Linked DNA regions of Homo sapiens: region 2 is linked to region 1. Evidence: fine-mapped expression QTL. A gene starts in region 1. The other region holds a variant in brackets. All regions are shown on one strand. Distances are from middle to middle.

Region 1 (2,914 bases):
TATTGTTTTCCATAGAGGTTCAGGATCCAGGATTTAAGTGCAACCATTCAGTGGAAAACCATCCTCTCAAGAGTTCAAATGAGAGTCCTCATGACCAGCACTCCCTGCTGAACGGCAATGCCCCACCCCCCAAAAAAGCCTCCATCCTCACCATCTTAGACCACATTGCAGGAAAGCAGCCCCATGCCCACCAGACAGGCCCACAGCTGCTGCTGCTCATGGGAGGTCTACCTCCCGTGCTCAGCAGGCAACCCACCCCAGTGCCCCTTTTCTACAATGACCATCAGCAGGGCTGCAGCTTCATAAAAATGTGAAAAACAGTTTGAAAGCAATGTGAAAAGCAGTTAGGTGCCTTTCAACTTCAAACTCAGCACTCATGGTTTGACAAATATGAGTATATTTAGGATCAGAATGTATGAAATCTGGCCTCTCCTGAATAGTCGGTCATCCCACAATTTCCTCTGCCAAACTTCTCTTCCCTCCCTGCGTTCTTTCTTTCACCTCTCTCTCATTTTTACAAGGTCTGGTCTCAGCCAGACATGAACCAATGATGATAGATGCTCCTGCTGAGCCCTGTGATGTGCCAGGGCCCTGACATGCGTGGCTTCTCTCTGATCCTCACGTGACCTGCAGATGCAAAAGCCAGAGCTCAGCATAGTTGAAAATCTTGATTGAGGTCATATCCCAGTTACTGGCACAGCCGGATTTAAACCTAAGACTTTCCCCTACACGACAGGGCTTTTATTTCTCAGTCATCTGAAAAGGTGTCAGCAAGGGAAATGGCTTGTCTATTTCCAGGGGCATTTTACAAGCAAATACTGAAAGGCTTCGGTGGGCTTAAGGGCTGATGGCTTTGATCGAATTTCAGGCATGTTGGCCCCAAGGCCCTGTGTATATTCCCTGGGCCCACTCAAGGGGATGCTGGAGCCGGAAAGTCCCCGGAGGCCACCTACTGCAGCCCTGCACTTTACAAAGAAGAGAAAGATTCTCCCTAAAATTACAGAACAGGGCCAAAGATGCCTACCGGAGCAAACCCCCATGGGGGCACCTCCTACCGCAGGTGAGCCCAAGGCTGGTCCTGCCTTCTCAGTGGCTACCCCCCTGAGCTCCCGCCACCACACAAAGTGTTCCAATCCTTGTGCATCCTCCAGTCCTTTTAACCTCTCATGTCCTGAGAGGCCAGAGCTACAGCCACAGATTCCAGAAGACACCCCACTCCCAGCCCCAACCTGCTGCCTTTAGAATTATAAACACTTCTTGTCATCACAGGGTCCTGAAAGTCCCTTTTAAGCCTGGGACACTAGGACTCTAAAGGAAGATGATTCTTAAGGTCCCATCCCACTTCCAAATTCCTGCGATTCAATGACATCACGGCTGTGAATAATCAGCCTGGCCCGAAGCCAGGATGGGCTGTGCTGCTTCCACCGTGAACTTCCTCCCCCTGCTTTATAAAAACAGGCCTGCCTCAGCTCCCTCATGGCCCTGTCCACTGAGCATCCTCCCGCCACACAGAAACCCGCCCAGCCGGGGCCACCGACCCCACCCCCTGCCTGGAAACTTAAAGGAGGCCGGAGCTGTGGGGAGCTCAGAGCTGAGATCCTACAGGAGTCCAGGGCTGGAGAGAAAACCTCTGCGAGGAAAGGGAAGGAGCAAGCCGTGGTAGGTCGGGTTTCTGTACCTTGGGGTCTGTCTCCTCTTCTTTCTCTTAAAAGTCTTTCCAGCAAGCTGAGCCAGTGAAGGAATGCTTTAACCAAGGGACCAACTTTGTAATTCAGGCAACTAGAGGATCCGCTAGAATCCACTCCAGAGGGGAGATGTCTGTTTGCATTTGCATGTGATTGGGATAGGCTGGAGTGTTTTGGAGGGGAGAGGCAGTCGGGGAAAGGGAGACTAGGGAGGTTGCATTCATTGGAGAAGCCTCTGCTGACAGAGTAAAGGGGAAAGTGAAAAGAACGATACAGAAAAGCCCCAAATAGCCTATGGGAGTACCTCAAGACGAGCAAGCAATAAAAGCAAAATCGGCTGCCTTGGGACACGTGCCTGTGACAGCTGGGAGGGCCCGCTGGGTCCCCTAGTTTCCTCCCTCCCCCGATGAACCCCCAGAAAGGAACTGAGGCTGTGGATGGGGCAGAGGGGGACTTACTTCCAGAGCACTATTTGCTAGGTGCTGGGAGAGAGAAGCAGGTGGCTTTCACACCCCACATTACCCCGTGGGATAGAGAAATGCCTCTGATCTCCCTAGGTGCCACCCCTACAAGTCTCCACAGGTCAGTTTGGCCCTCTGGCTTTTTGCCCAGGGTGCATCAGTCAAGTGTGCAGTCCTCCTTAAAGGACATTTTAATTACAGGGGAAAAAACTGACATTAATGTCTTTTATTCCTAAAGCACTCTGCAGGAAGCATGTGGGGTTCTCCAGATTTTCACTGTTATTATCTTTATTTTCTTAACCTCACAGGGAGGGAGAGAGGAAGGGAGGGAGGGAAGACGAAAACACGCCGAGGTCCCAGGTAACTAATGACAACTCAAGCTCAAAGAAGTGTGGTAACAAGGATGTGTTTGGTGGCCAATTGGGAATAATATGGTGGTCTCCTGTAGCTGCTTGATGACAGAAAAAATGTCGTGTGTGTGTGTATGCGTGTGCATTGCAGTCCCGGGAAGGGGTCTTGCAAATACCATTGTCAGGTGGAGTCCCCTCAAAGGTGACTTCCTAGCAGTACTTGCTGTGGCAAGAACGCTCATTCTGGGATCTAGACTCAATCCATGACGGTCAGCATGAGCTGCTGGGTGCGTGCTTCCTGTGCAGGCAGAGTCGGACTCCAGCACTGGCAGGGACACTGTGAGTATTGAGATATGAATAGCTCCATCCTGCCCACCCATTTATTCCACCTAAAATGTTCTCAAAGATGCAAGCCTCC
Region 2 (2,914 bases), 49 kb before region 1:
TGTGATTAAGTTGGCTAAAATTGAATCAATTTATTATAAGGATCTCAAAAATGAGCCTTAATATCAAAAGTACAATCTAAAACTAGAGTTTCATCTTCTTTCTTAAAATTACAAAGTTTTATTGGAGTATTGGACTTCTCTTGATAAAATACTGTGGAACGTTTTTCTTTACCGTCTATGTAATCTGTGTAGGAAATCTAGAATTTGCTGAGGTGGAAAAAAATCTGCGTCTTATCAGAATAATTTCCTGTGTTTCATGTTGTCTTTTTCAGGTGTTTGATTACTTAAGAAGACTCAGTCTTCTCTGTTAAAAGAGCTAAGCTAAAAAAAAAAAAAAGAAAACTGTATACCTTTCTGTAATTACCTCTGAAATCTTCCAGCGCTTTGGTTAAATGGATAACTGAGTAATGTTTTACAGTGATCTGTGATCCTGTTTAATCAAAAAATTTAGTCTTTTGACTTTTAAAAAAAAAATTGTCCTTTGAAAATTTTTTTTTAGAGATAAGGTCTCCTCCTATGCTGCCCAGGCTGATGTCGAACTCGTGGGCTCAAGTGATCCTCCTGCCTTGGCCTCCCAAAGTGCTGGGATTATAGGCATGAGCCACTGAGCCCAGCCGTCTTTTGGCATTTTTGACAACTTTGAAAAATCAAACTCTACATGAAGTGTTTTTGACCTTGAGCTAACTTTGGAATTTTCCTGAAGGCCCCTAAAAAGTCACAAAGGACTTGTCTTTCTTCTTTTTTATTTATTATTAATTTTTTTTTTTTGAGATGGAGTCTCGCTCTGTTGCCAGGCTGGAGTGCAGTGGCGCGATCTTGGCTCACTGTAACCTCCACCTCCGGGTTCAAGAGATTCTCCTGCCTCAGCCTCCCAAGTAGCTGGGACTACAGGCGCGTGCCACCACACCCAGCTAATTTTTGTATTTTTAGTAGAGATGGGGTTTCACCATGTTGGCCAAGATGGTCTCAATTGGTTGACCTCGTGATCCGCCTGCCTCGGCCTCCCAAAGTGCTGGGATTATAGGCATAAGCCACTGCACCCGGCCTTGTCTTTCTTCTTATAAAAACAAACTTGTTAAATTAATTTGGTACGTTAAATTACATGGGAAGCATTGTTAAAAAAGAAGTGATACTAAAGCTTCTTTATGTCATATTTGTATGTATTTATGTGTTCCAGAAATTGCATGAAGTTATAATGTTGTCAGTTATAATTCTAGTTATTATCTTAAAATGTATGTGACAGAAGTAACTGAATTTTTTTCTCAATTGTATTACAATTAATTCTCATCCTTTAACCATGACCATTTGAAGTCTTTTGTCATCCACAGACAGTTAATTGTTTTATTTTGATGCATTCCTAAAAGCTTTTGCAAACAACTATAATATGAACCACCATGCTTATGTGGTTTCTTTGCATGGCTGCTGTGCTGATGAGTAAGAAAAGTCATTTCCTGGTAGGCCCAGGAACCTCAAGAAAGTGCATTTGTATTTAAGGAGATTCATGGAGAAAACGGACAAGTACAC[G/A]TTCCTGATGACTTTAAGATCATACCGTTCAACTTCCAGAACACTAATGGAAAAACTGACTCATTCATGAAATTGCTAACCAAAGATCAAGCAGAACAAGAATTAATTACATCAGACTAGATGACCCAATGAAGATGATTTAAATTATTTTTAATTATTATTATTTTTTTTGAGATGGAGTTTTGCTCTTGTTGCCCAGGTTGGAGTGCAATGGCACAATCTTGGCTCACTGCCACCTCTGCCTCTCGGGTTCAAGTGATTCTCCTGCCTCAGCCACTTGAGTAGCTTGGATTACAGGCGCATGCCACCACCCACAGCTATTTTTTTTTTTTTTTTGTATTTTTGGTAGAAACGGGGTTTCACTATGTTGGCCAGGCTGGTCTCAAACTTCTCACCTCAGGCTATCCACCTGCCTCAGCCTCCCAAACTGCTGGGATTACAGGCATGAGCCACCACGCCCGACTGATGATTATAATTCTTATGACTTCTTGTTTTAGGACATTTCTGGGTCTTTAATGGCTTTTCTCTTTTTTTCTTAAGCTAACTAAAATTTACAGCAATCAGGTAAATTATACCTTCGTAAACAGAATTGAAACATTTATCCTTTTTTCTCTACCTGATCCCTGTAGAATTCAGAAACTCTTACTGGCTATTCTTATTTTCATGACTACTCATGACTATATAGTTATTTTCTTTTTCTTTTTCTTTTTTTTTTTTGAGATGGAGTTTCACTCTTGTCGCCCAGGCTGGAGTGCAATGGTGCAATCTCGGCTCACTGCAACCTCCACCTCCCGGGTTCAAGCGATTCTCCTGCCTCAGCCTCCCAAATACCTGGGATTACAGGTGCCCGCCACCACTCCTGACTAATTTTTTTGTATTTTTAGTAGAGACGGGGTTTCACTCTGTTGGCCAGGCTGGTCTTGAACTCCTGACCTCGTGATCCACCCGCCTCGGCCTCCCAAAGTGCTGGGATTACAGGTGTGAGCCACCATGCTTGGCACTATATAGTTATTTTCATAAATTCAGTAAGAATCTAGTCTCCTTATAACAGGGACACAATTGAAAACCTTGATTATATTGCTAAGACGTTGACTGGAATATCAAATATGAAAATGAACATATAATCCGATATGATCAGACAGTTTTAAGGAACTAAGGTTGACTTTATGGAGCCAAAAAGCCAACCTCATACTTTGCTTATGTGGTTTCTTTATGTGGTTGCCTTACAGATGAGTAAGAAAGGTCACTTCCTGGCAGACCTCAGGTATATTGGGGACATCAAGAAAAGAATAATTCATCAAAGTCTACAGATATTGCAGGCAAAGTTGAAACAAGCCAGACAAGTTCTCTTTGTATTCTTGAGAGACTTGGAAAGTCTAACCTGAGATTC

Which allele goes with the higher level. Alleles are on the strand shown, and positions count from the first base shown. SD is a standard deviation of normalised expression in the study named.
In carriers of allele G in region 2, the expression in fibroblasts of the gene that starts at base 1,588 in region 1 tends to be lower than with A alone (large effect, 1.1 SD a copy in GTEx).

What was found.
Region 2: its variant is fine-mapped to the expression of PLAT in fibroblasts (GTEx, PIP above 0.99).

The regions. Positions count from the first base shown.
Region 1 is chr8:42,206,239-42,209,152 of GRCh38, reverse strand. It overlaps PLAT (plasminogen activator, tissue type), which reads left to right and starts at 1,588. Exons shown (of 14, transcript NM_000930.5): 1 at 1,588-1,659. RefSeq lists enhancers at 50-568, 569-1,087.
Region 2 is chr8:42,255,354-42,258,267 of GRCh38, reverse strand. It overlaps IKBKB-DT (IKBKB divergent transcript), which reads left to right. Exons shown (of 4, transcript NR_185843.2): 4 at 2,754-2,914. Among named protein-coding and RNA genes, the nearest start is that of IKBKB-DT, 14 kb to the left of the region's middle. The variant G/A (reference allele first, on the strand shown) is at 1,525.